3 linked regions of the Homo sapiens genome follow. The protein of the gene in region 2 interacts with the protein of the main gene of each other region in a pairwise test. Each region holds a gene or a part of one and is shown on either strand. Other genes may lie near its edges.

What was found.
Region 1: the proteins of GSN (region 2) and PLEKHS1 interact in binary tests that used the Homo sapiens proteins (3 or more experiments, as listed by UniProt).
Region 3: the proteins of GSN (region 2) and E2F8 interact in binary tests that used the Homo sapiens proteins (3 or more experiments, as listed by UniProt).

Annotation. Positions count from the first base shown.
Region 1 is NC_000010.11:113,749,766-113,753,518, reverse strand, and holds the start of PLEKHS1 (pleckstrin homology domain-containing family S member 1), read right to left. Parts: upstream 1,838-3,753; 5' UTR 1,758-1,837; intron 1-1,757.
Region 2 is NC_000009.12:121,271,089-121,274,841, reverse strand, and holds part of GSN (gelsolin), read right to left. Parts: intron 3,033-3,753; exon of another isoform or gene 2,979-3,032; intron 1-2,978. UniProt on the Homo sapiens protein: Calcium-regulated, actin-modulating protein that binds to the plus (or barbed) ends of actin monomers or filaments, preventing monomer exchange (end-blocking or capping).
Region 3 is NC_000011.10:19,234,258-19,238,010, reverse strand, and holds part of E2F8 (transcription factor E2F8), read left to right. Parts: coding exon 1-157; intron 158-540; coding exon 541-697; intron 698-2,952; coding exon 2,953-3,267; intron 3,268-3,489; coding exon 3,490-3,651; intron 3,652-3,753. UniProt on the Homo sapiens protein: Atypical E2F transcription factor that participates in various processes such as angiogenesis and polyploidization of specialized cells.

The sequences.
Region 1 (3,753 bases), on a different chromosome or scaffold from region 2:
CACACTCAGCTCTGTGCAATGAGCTATAATGCCTGGGAAAGATGCCAAGCTATTGAGGCCGAAGGCTGTTGTTTCCTGGAAGAGCAATTCTGTGTGAGAAAGAGAACGTAACCTCTTCAAAACCTTGCCCACTCCCCAAAATGCATGGATAATATTTAAAAAATTATCCCTGAGATTTCTTATCAAATCCATGAGGTTCTTTCCAGTTTCAAGGATTTCACTGCCTGAAGAGCTGGGGACAAGCGGTTTTCAACCCATCACCTTTCCCTCTGTCCATGTTTATAGGACTTGGCCACGCCCCCTATGCAGCTGTTAGCCTAATGAGTGATGGCCCTCAAGGATCCAATCGGAGAAATGTGCAGGAGAGATTAGCTGTGGGTGGCATATTTTAAAGCAGTGTTTACTGCAAGCTGTTTTTGAGCTGCTGTTTGTCAAAAAGCCAAAAAATCATTTTAAAAAATATTTCTAAAGCCTTTAAAGTTTATAAAATGCATTTGCATACATTATTTTTTTGTGTTCAGAATGGCTTCATTCTGAGATAGCTCATTTTACAAATGAAAAGCTGCATTTGAGAGAAGACTGAGATGACTTGGACCTAGGTCCCCTGGCAGAACTCCACACAGCACCACATTCATGCTCATGGACACTCCCAAATAACATTTGCCCTCCCTGTGCCCTGTGGATGTCAAAGTGTGCTTTGGAGGACATCTCTGTCCTTCCAGTGTCTGCAAAGGGCTCCAGAGTCATGTGCTGCAACCATTCCTCCTTCATCTCCCCACCCACCGTAAAATGAGAGGACAGATAAGGCAGTAGGGTGTGGTGGTTTAGAGTGTTAGCTCTGGCATCTGGGTTTAAATTTCATCTCCATGAATTATGAGGAATGTGATCTTGGATACTTTATAATACTTCTCTACACCTCCATTTCTTCATCTGTAACATGAAGGTTATTACTACCCTCATCAGATTGCTGGGAGTATCACTTGAGATACCCTGTTGATGAGCACTCCTCAGTACATAATAGAAGCTCAATAAATGCTAGTTGTTAGGTCCTTTCCAGCTCAGATATTCTATGATTCTATGGTTGTTTAATAATGGGTAGCATTTTTTGAGTACTTAATACATTCCAGGCACTTCTAAGCAATATGTATATGAAAGATTTTATGTATATGTATACATATAATTTCACATATACATATAAAATCTCATCCTAACCTCATAACCGTACTCTAAAGCTTGCACTGTTTTCACAATGATACAATGCCCATTTACAGACGAGGAAATGGTTATCGGAGAGATTAAACAACTTTACTTTGATCATGTAATTAAAAAGAAGCAGAACCAGAATTCTAGCTTGAGAGCTGGCCTTAACTACTTTGCTTTTCCTCCTATCTAAGAAAGTAGAATTAAGTCTTTTCATAGTTCTGCTTGTTTTTCTTGTCATTGCCCCCAAACAAAAAAGAAAGCCTTTCTGATTTAGCTGTTTGATCTCATTCAGGAGAATCTCCCCACAGTCACTGCCTGACCCATTTATTATAACATTATTTTGGATTTGGTGAATACAGTATACCAAGAGGTCAGTCCTATTTCCCTCTGACTATAGTATAGCCTAGGAAGCTTATGAAGAAAGTGCCCATAACAGAAATACAGCATATCTGCAAAATTTTCCATTTCCAATTTTGCAATTGTTCAATTGCAAAAAAGCTTCTAGATCATCCCAGCCTTGGAAGTCCAAACCAGATACACCAAGCAGTACTTACTGGAAGCCAAGAGGTCGCTGGTCCAGTGCTCAGGAAAGTGCCTTGTCCCGAGGATTCCTGAACTCACTCCTGCTGACTCTGAGCCTTGGTGCCTGGGTGAGGATTAAGCACAAACTCTGCTTGAAATCTGAACCACCAGGAAGTTCCCAAACTAATATCCTTGAGCAGATTTTATTCTTGCCCCAAACTGAAATGGAAGCTATGCCCTCAGGGGAAGTTCTGGGCCTTCATACTTGTGGCTTGCCACAGAACTCTCCTTGGTGTCCCAGCTGCCTAGCACCAAAAATGAAAGCAAACACATTAATAATAAAAAAAAATTCCTGCCAGACTTTGGACCATGGTCACAATAACCCTTATTGAGAACAACGCCAATTTACCCTCAACCGTCTGTGGTGACTACCATTGAAAAAAAATCCCTATGCCTCCCTCAGCCATATCTTAACCAATGTCTTCCTGGGAAGGGTAGAAAGGGTTCCTTTGTACCAGATGAGGAAACAAAAGCCTGGCTTCTCTAAACACTTGTACATGCCAATGGTTTCCAGGAAGAGTTGCTCATTCAGCCATGACAGAGTGTTACCATCAACAGGGTGGCGCTAGGCATGTTCCCCTGCACAGCCACCAACAGCAATTGAGCAAACCATCATTCTTAGACCTGGTGAGTGGTATCCAGCCACCAAAGGGTCTTAGGTATATTTTCATGTGTATTACAGATTTCTAGGGGAGAGGAAGAAGTGATGATGAATTTTATCCTGTTCTACTGCCTTTAGAAGTAAAAGTACATCATTTGAATCCTCATCCTCACGAGGGTAGCTGGTCTGGAATCAGCTCTGCCATGGATCCATTGTGTGGTCTTGGCAAGTTAACTGGAGTTCTCTGAGTCTGTTTCCTCATCTGCAAAATGGAACAGATAATACTGACTTCACAGGATTTTTTTTTAAAGTTAAGTAAAATTTCACATATAAAAAGCATCTAGCACAGTGCTTTATCCACAGTTAGCATTCAACAGAGGGTATTTCTTTGTTTTTCTCTTTTGCATCCTATGGAGGGTAGATGTTATTGGTTTCTTCATTTAGCAAACCTAGCTGGACTTCAGGCATACAGAAATTATTGATATATTGTTTGCTTCCTGCACAGGACCAGTTTTGCTTGATTTAGGAAAAACAATTTCTTAATTTTGATATAGTTTGGATGTCCCCTCCAAATCTCATGTTGAGATGTAATCCCCAGTGATGGAGGTGGAGTCTGGCTGGAGGTGTTGGGTCCTGGGGGTGGATCCCTCATGGCTTGGTTCTGTGTCTGAGATAGTGAGTTGTACTGAGGTCTTTATTTAAAAGTGTGTGGCATCTCCCCCAACTCTACTGCTCCCACTCCCACCAGGTGACATGGCTACTCCCGCCTCACCTTCCACCATGCGTAAAAGAAAGCCCCCTGAGGTCTTCTCAGAAGCTGAGAGATGCCAGGACTATGCTTCCTGTACAGCTTGCAGAACCATGGGCCAATTAAACCTCTTTTCTTTATAAATTATCAAATCTCAGGTATTTCTTTATAACAAGACAGAGATAGACCTAACAGAATTTCCTGGATGTTCTTTTGGGCTAACTTTTGATAATTCTGGAGATAGTCTTAATGTCTTTACATTAGAATTTTAATCAGATACCAGTTGTAGCTCTAAGTAGTTCATAAAAAGCTTGTGCTGATTTCCACTTACTTGGGAACTATAAAGTCCAGACAGCCTATTGTTATAATATAGAGACCTAACCAAAAAGGGGAAGAGGGAAAATTACTGTAAGACTTGTGTTCCTTTGGAAAGGATACCGATGAAACAGTTAGATGTGCTTTCCATCAGCAACCTGTTCATCTGTCTGTCCCTCCACCTACCCACCCATCCAACCCACCCTATTCTAGGCTTTTTTGTATTATTTTTCCAATAGTATTACAAAACTCTTTGGAGGAAGAAGCCTAACAAAGCTATTTGTACTGTAGATAAACCCATGAA
Region 2 (3,753 bases):
TCATCCTTGATATCTGATCAGGCTCCTCATCCTCCACCATGCCCCCACTGATGTTTGAATCACCCTGGTTTGTCTTCATCAATAATTTTGTTAGGTCGGTTTAGCAAGAATATCCCTTATTCCTGAGCTTCCTCTTAGTAATTTTCCATCCGCTGACCCCTACCCTGCTCTGCAGCTATCAATTCCCACTCGCCCATGCTGTATTAGGAGTTGAGCCCAAACTCTCTCCCTCACTGTAGGACCCTGTTGCAGTGGTCCCTATGCCCAAGGCAATGTTCCTGAATAAAGACTTCCTTACCGTGTTTTCACAAGTGTCACTGAATTTTTTTTTTAACAAGAAAAAGCTATAAAATGTGTCATTTTGACTCAGGAACTCCATTTCTAGGGCTCACTTCTAGGAAATAATAAAAGAAGAACACACAAAAAAAGTATGCACTAGGTTGTTCATTGCAGTATTGTTTATAAACTGCCTAAATGTTTCATAATTGAGGATTGTTAAGGGAACATGGTACAGGCACACCAAAGATAGAATAATAGTGAGTGATGAAAACTCGGGTGGGCATTTATTTCTACCATAACAAAAAAAAAGTAGGAGGCAAGACCCTTGTTTAAGGACTAAAGAGCCACTGACAATAACAGGGTACAGCCTAGTGCCCAGATCTTTTAATGTCTATATTCGATATCTGACTTATCTGTCGATTTCATCTGCTATGAGTTTCTAGAATCTGAACAGCTCTTGAAATACTTTGCTGCTTAATTATGGAGCAAAGTAGGGTCCTGTAGGAGAGAGAGACTCAGTAGAAAGCCATGGAAGGGGGAGAAATACAGCTAGCATTTGATCAACCTTTTCACCAGAAGTTTTTATACCCAAGATTATAAACATTATTCTCTCTGTATTTATGGATGCAAACTACAGCCCTGGGGAGCCCCAGTCTTGGTTCTTTGGGGGTGATCTTGGGCAAATCCTGTTTCTCTCAGCCTTTTTGTTAATAAATAAAAAGCATTATTTCATTTTTTAATCCCTAGGACTATTGGAATAAAAGATTTAAATTAGAATAAACATTTATCTACTTAGGTATAGTATGCTTTTAAAACTTTTAAAAATTAAATTTAAAAAGAATCCTTAATAACATGAGAAAAATACTTACGATATAATGTTGAGAAAAAACAGAAAGTCAGAACAGACAATTATAAATATAGGATAATTGTGTGGGGGTAAAAAAAAATGCACTGAAAATATCAGGAAGGAAGGGCACCCAGGTGTTGGCAGTGATTTTCTCTGGTTAGTTATGAACACTTCTTTTTTATATATATACTTTTTTATTTCCTAAATTTTCTATCACAAGTGTAATAGAAATAATAAGGGTGGGGGGAAAAGGTCCTTGGAGGTGGGGAGAAAAAAGTACATATGCCACCCACATCATCAACACACACCCAACAAGTTAACTAGTATTTACTTAGTACCCACCAAAACCCAGCTCAGCCACAGTCTCTGTAGCAGGGAAATTAAGGGCCAAGCCCCACCCTGAAGGCTCACATATGTAGAATATATATACTTTGCTTGGCAAATAAGCTTGGCTCTGATGATATTCTTATTGAGGTTGGAAAATAACAGGACTGTTTGCTTAGCCAGCTCAGCAGAATAAACGAATCCACTCCCACTGGTGCGACCCCTTCACTGGAGTTCCCTGCGAGGCTCCATGGCTTAAAGCCTTTCTGGATCACTCTTGGGAAGAGTCAATTTCAGGGATACTTTATAGCCCAGGAAGAAAACTGTTCTCATCCCTTAACCCAGGCACTGAATGCAAGAGGTGAAGAGGCTCCCCATGAGGCAGAGCAAGCAAGGGAGGAGGGAGGAGCAGGAGGGCCTGGGAAGGAACCTGACAGGCTGTGTGTGGGCCCTGGGGACCCCTGGGCAAAGGAGCTCACGTCTCCAGGCCTGAGTTTCCTCACTGGTAAAATGGGTCACATAATGACAACCCCAGGACTATTGTGAGACTCAAAGAAGAGAACGTAAGTCCTTTCATTTTTCTAAACTGAGCCTCAGTTTCCTCATCTGTAAAATGGAGTCACTATCTCTCCCCTCGTAGATCTGTTAAAAGATTAAAGCAGATAGTGAAAGCAAAAGGTGAACATACATAGTAAGTGTGTTACATATGGTGGCCCTTATTATTGTTGCTTGTAGAGCAGGGAATGGGATACATCAACAAATCCTAGGCCTCAACTCCCTTATCTGCAAAATGGGGCAATCAATTCAGTCCGAAAAGATTAAATTCAAGAACAGTAGCTGAATCACCAGTTGCACCACTGCGGGCTCACTTTGTGTCTCAGACATGCCGGACCCAAGTACATGTGGGGAGCACAAAGCCCTCCAACTCAGAGGCCATCAGAGCTGGGAAGGCTGACATTATGCTGTCCACCCTACAGTGCAGAATGGACACTGGGGCCCAGAGAAAGGCATGCATTAGCCCAAGTCACCCAGTACTTTGTCACTGGCAAAGCCAGGACCCAAGCCCAGGCCTTCAGCTGCCTACCCTTGCCCACAACACCCACTGCTTTTCTCTGCCCTATTCTTAAATTGCTGATGTGGTCCCAGGCAGGGCAGACGAGAGCAGGCATATGGCAGGGGAGGGACAGAGGGAAGGGGAAGCTGGCCAGCAGCAGGAACTGAGCCTGCCTGTGGTCTCCAACTTCACAAACCACATCAGGCTGAAATATGACACACGCTCACTCCGTTGAAAGCGAGGAGATATTTTTACTTAACATCCCCCGGCTGCCTAAACACTGGTCTCTTTTTTTCCCTTCCTCCCCAAAATGCATAACCCCTGGGACGTGCTTTTCTCTGCTTCTGCTGGCATTTTCTCAGGGAATAACCAAGGAGCAGGAGAGTGTCCAGTTTTCCTGGCTTCGCCAGATAGATTTCCAGAGCATAAGCTTGATTGATGAAAAGGGGGGACCAGTCCTGGCTGGGCTCTCACCTCACCACATGACCTTGCTGGGCAAGTCCTGTGTCCTTTTGGAGCCTGGATTCCCTGAAATGGAGGGGAGATTGACCTGCACTGAGGGTCCTGCGGATGGCACAGGAAAGCATGAGTTTACAAACAGCCCCGGGAGGCCCCTCCAGGCCTCTCTGCTGCAGGGCTGAGCTCTCCAAGCTCTGCACACCGACACCCACCCCTCATAAAAGCATAACAAACTCCCTTACCAGTTCTCCTAATACCAGGACTAGAAAGAATTTTCAAGAGAATGTTTAGTGCTGTCATTAATAGCTATGGCTCTGTCGTCAGACCTCTGGAATCCTTGCACCATCACCCAATAGCCACACAACCCGGGGCATGTTATTCAGCCTCGGACTCAGTTTCCTCATCTGTAAAAGAAGATACTAGTATCTACCTCAGAGGAATGGTTGCAAGGAATCAATAAAGTAATTAATGTTCCAGTGCTTGGTATATTAAAAGATAGCTTTTTTTGTCTTTTCTTTTTTTGTTTTGAGACAGTATTGTTCTGTCATCCAGGCTGGAGTGCAGTGGCGTGATTTCAGCTTACTGTAACCTCCGTCTCCAGGGTTTAAGCAATTCTCATACCTCAGCCTCCCAAGTAGCTAGGATTACAGGAGCATCCCAGCACGTATTTTCAGTAGAGACAGGGTTTCACCATGTTGACCAGGCTGGTCTCAAACTCCTGGCTTAAGCCATCAACCCAACTCGGCCTCCCAAAATGCTGGAACTGCAGGTGTGAGCCACCATGCCCAGT
Region 3 (3,753 bases), on a different chromosome or scaffold from region 2:
CAAGCCCAAGGAAGGCTCTCAGGGAGAGCCGTGGACACCGACAGCCAACCTGAAAATGCTCATCAGTGCTGTGAGCCCTGAGATCCGCAACAGAGATCAGAAAAGGGGTTTGTTTGACAACAGAAGTGGATTACCTGAGGCCAAAGACTGTATACACGTAGGTTTTCAGAGGACTGGTTGGAGGCTGGGGAATTTGTTGGGGGGAGGGGGGAGGTTGTAGCTATTAGAGAAGTGCCAGCAATTTAAAGCATCACCACCCGAAGGCTGTTATTAACTTCCTTCGGAGCACCAGAAAGGTTTGGACCCCAAGAAATATAGCTCTGGGAATTCTGAACCTTTGCGTTATTTTCGTTTCAGGCTTTCCTTTCAGGTTTGCCAAGCATTTTGTACTGGCCCCCCTAACCTTTTCTCCCATCCAGACTTTGCAGCTGTTGAAGCTAAGCGTGTGTAAGTTGGTGTCAGTCATCGAGCACAGATGCCCCTAATAAATCTGTCAGACTTTATTTTAGAATAAGACATTGTTTACCTTTTCCTTTGTAGGAACACTTATCTGGAGATGAATTTGAGAAATCCCAACCAAGTCGAAAAGAGAAAAGTTTAGGATTATTGTGTCATAAGTTCTTAGCACGATATCCTAATTATCCCAACCCTGCTGTGAATAATGACATCTGCCTTGACGAAGTGGCAGAGGAACTTAGTAAGTATGCAAAGAACTCACTGAAAGAATTAATAATTAAAGTGGCTTTATGGACTTAACTCCTTCAGACCCCCGCTCATCTAGCCAGTGTTTGTAAATGACACAAATAAGCCGGCATGGAAATTTTCTATCTCTAAAGCCCTCTTCTAATATAAGAATGAAGGTAAGTAGTTGCAAATTTCAGCAAATCTTGGAGGCAGAAAAGTCACAATGGAGGTTGCTTCTGACTACAGTTGTCTCTGAAGCTTTAAAGAAAGGCAATATTGTCTCATGACTTGTTTCACAAAGTTACAACTGTGAACTTTTGCTTCATTGCTCTCCCTTGCTGTTCTTGAAGAATCAGGCTGATAAATGGTTATCTTCCTAGTTGACGCTGAGGATCAGCTTCTGTGAGTGGGAACAGGACCTGTGCACTCCTGGACCTTCAGCACTATTCTGAGGACTAGTTTTCTGAATGTTTTGTGTTGGGCACAAGTTATTCCTCCTGCCCCTTTTTACTCTGTTCAAAGACCTGAATCTATTTGGAGCTAAAAAGGGGCCCGTGGTGAATTTGGGGTACCTTTGGAGTCATGTGGGTATCTTAATTTAAACCTGTGAAGTGATGTGCTGTGCAAGATAATACATTTTAATACAAAGCAATCACCCCGTGAAGAAAAGTTGCCCTTCTAATACATGTTTGTAAATATCAACTTTATTTCACATTTTAAGAATATACCGTTTAGATTCATCTACTTTTCATATATGCTTAATGGTAGCTGGGTAGGATATTCAGCAAATATCTATTAATCTTCTACTACTATGTGTCAGGCAATGTTGTAGGAGCCTGGGATACATCCGTAAACAAAAAGGGCAAAATCTCTTCTCTCTTAGAACCTATATTCTAGTGGGGCAATAGATACTGAGTAAAGGATATAGGAAGTAAGTAAGGATAATACATGCTAGAAGGTAACATGCATAGTGGAAAAAATAAATTGTAGATCAGGATCAAGGGATCAGGAGTGCTGGGGAGGTGCTTTGCCATAAGTGGTCAGATCAGGCTTCGTTGAGAAGGTGACATCTGGGCAAGGACTTGAAAGAAGCAAGGTAGGGAGCTGTAAGGACATCAGGGAGAAGGGTTCCAGGCAGAAGGAACAGCCGGTACAAAGCAAGTGCATATCTGGCAGGTTCCAGGGACAGCAAGAGGTCGGTAGGATGCACCCTTATTAAAATAGTGTTTTATTGATCACTTTTCCAGAAAGGCTGATCTCATCAAATATTTAAATTGAAATTAAGTTTCTTGAACGAAGAGAATTCTAACATTACAGAATATTGAAAACCCAATTTAAATAGATAGAGTCACAGAATTACTAATATCATATTGTTAATGATAGCTAGAAAGTAAGCAAAATTAGACCCAAAAAGGCATATTTTATTTTTATGTAAGTTTTTAAAAACTACATCATGGTTTTTGTACTTTTCTGAAATCTCAGCATTTTGTTTCTATCTTATGATCATTACAGATGGGCGTGTGTGTACGTGTTTGTATTGGAAGCGGTTGGAAGGTGTGAGATGTAGAGTTTTAAAGACTTGGTTTGCTACTTGCTAGCTCTTTTGGGGTGAGCTACTTAGCTGGTCTGAGCCTCTGTTTTCTCATCGTTTTTTTTTTTTGTTTGTTTGTTTGTTTTTGAGACGGAGTCTCGCTCTTTCGCCCAGGCTGGAGTGCTGTGGCGCGATCTAGGCTCACTGCAAGCTCCGCCTCCCGGGTTCACACCATTCTCCTGCCTCAGCCTCCTGAGTAGCTGGGACTACAGGCACCCGCCACCACACCCGGCTAATTTTTTTGTATTTTTAGTAGAGACTGGGTTTCACCATGTTAGCCAGGATGGTCTCCATCTCCTGACCTCGTGATCCGCCCTCCTCGGCCTCCCAAGGTGCTGGGATTACAGGTGTGAGCCACCGCACCCGGCCTTTCTCATCCTTTTTAAAGTGCAGATCATAATACCTACTTCACAAGTTTAGGGTGAAAACTTCCTAAAGCTGTGTAGCACAACTTAGGCCCTCATTAAATGTTGCCTTTCTAATTCATATGATTTGTGCCCTTGGAAAGCAAGCACATGTCTTTCTCACCTTCACAGTATTTGTTGAGTATGTTCACTTACAGTTAGGAAAGTGATATTATCCAAGACCTACTGACTAATAAACCAATGGAAGAAAAAGCTATTCAATTCTAAACACGTTACAAAAATCTGTAACACACAATTGCACATTCTTTGTAGATGTTGAACGTCGACGCATTTACGATATCGTGAACGTCCTAGAGAGTTTACATATGGTGAGCCGCCTCGCCAAAAACAGGTACACTTGGCACGGGCGACACAATCTCAACAAAACCCTTGGCACCTTGAAGAGCATCGGGGAGGAGAATAAGTACGCCGAGCAGATTATGATGATCAAAAAGAAAGAATATGAGCAAGAGTTTGACTTTATTAAGAGTTACAGTATAGAGGATCATATCATCAAATCAAACACTGGCCCAAATGGACACCCAGACATGTGTTTTGTGGAACTCCCTGGAGTGGAATTTCGGGCAGGTGAGAGATGGTAGTGAAAACTCCAGGCGGCATGGCATTTGTCCTCTGTCTAAGGAAAAGGTTCTGTGGAGAACACAGCTCTAAAGCTACTGCTGCCTTTAATGTTCAGATGCCACAGTTGTCAGCTGTATGATCAGGTGGTAGTATTTTTAGCCTTGTTACTTTAGAAGTCACTTGTCCCTTTATGAATTTTAATTCTCTAATCCTCATCCTTCTCTAAAGCTTCTGTAAACAGCCGCAAAGACAAGTCTTTAAGGGTAATGAGCCAGAAATTTGTGATGCTGTTTTTGGTGTCAACGCCTCAGATAGTAAGCCTAGAAGTTGCTGCCAAGATTTTAATTGGGGAGGACCATGTGGAAGATTTGGATAAAAGCAAGTTTAAAAGTAAGTGTCATGACTGCCATGGATTTTTGAACCTATTCTTAAACAATAAAATCTCAGTCGTAAACTCATTTCCAAATTAGGAAACATAGGTGCATAAACAGA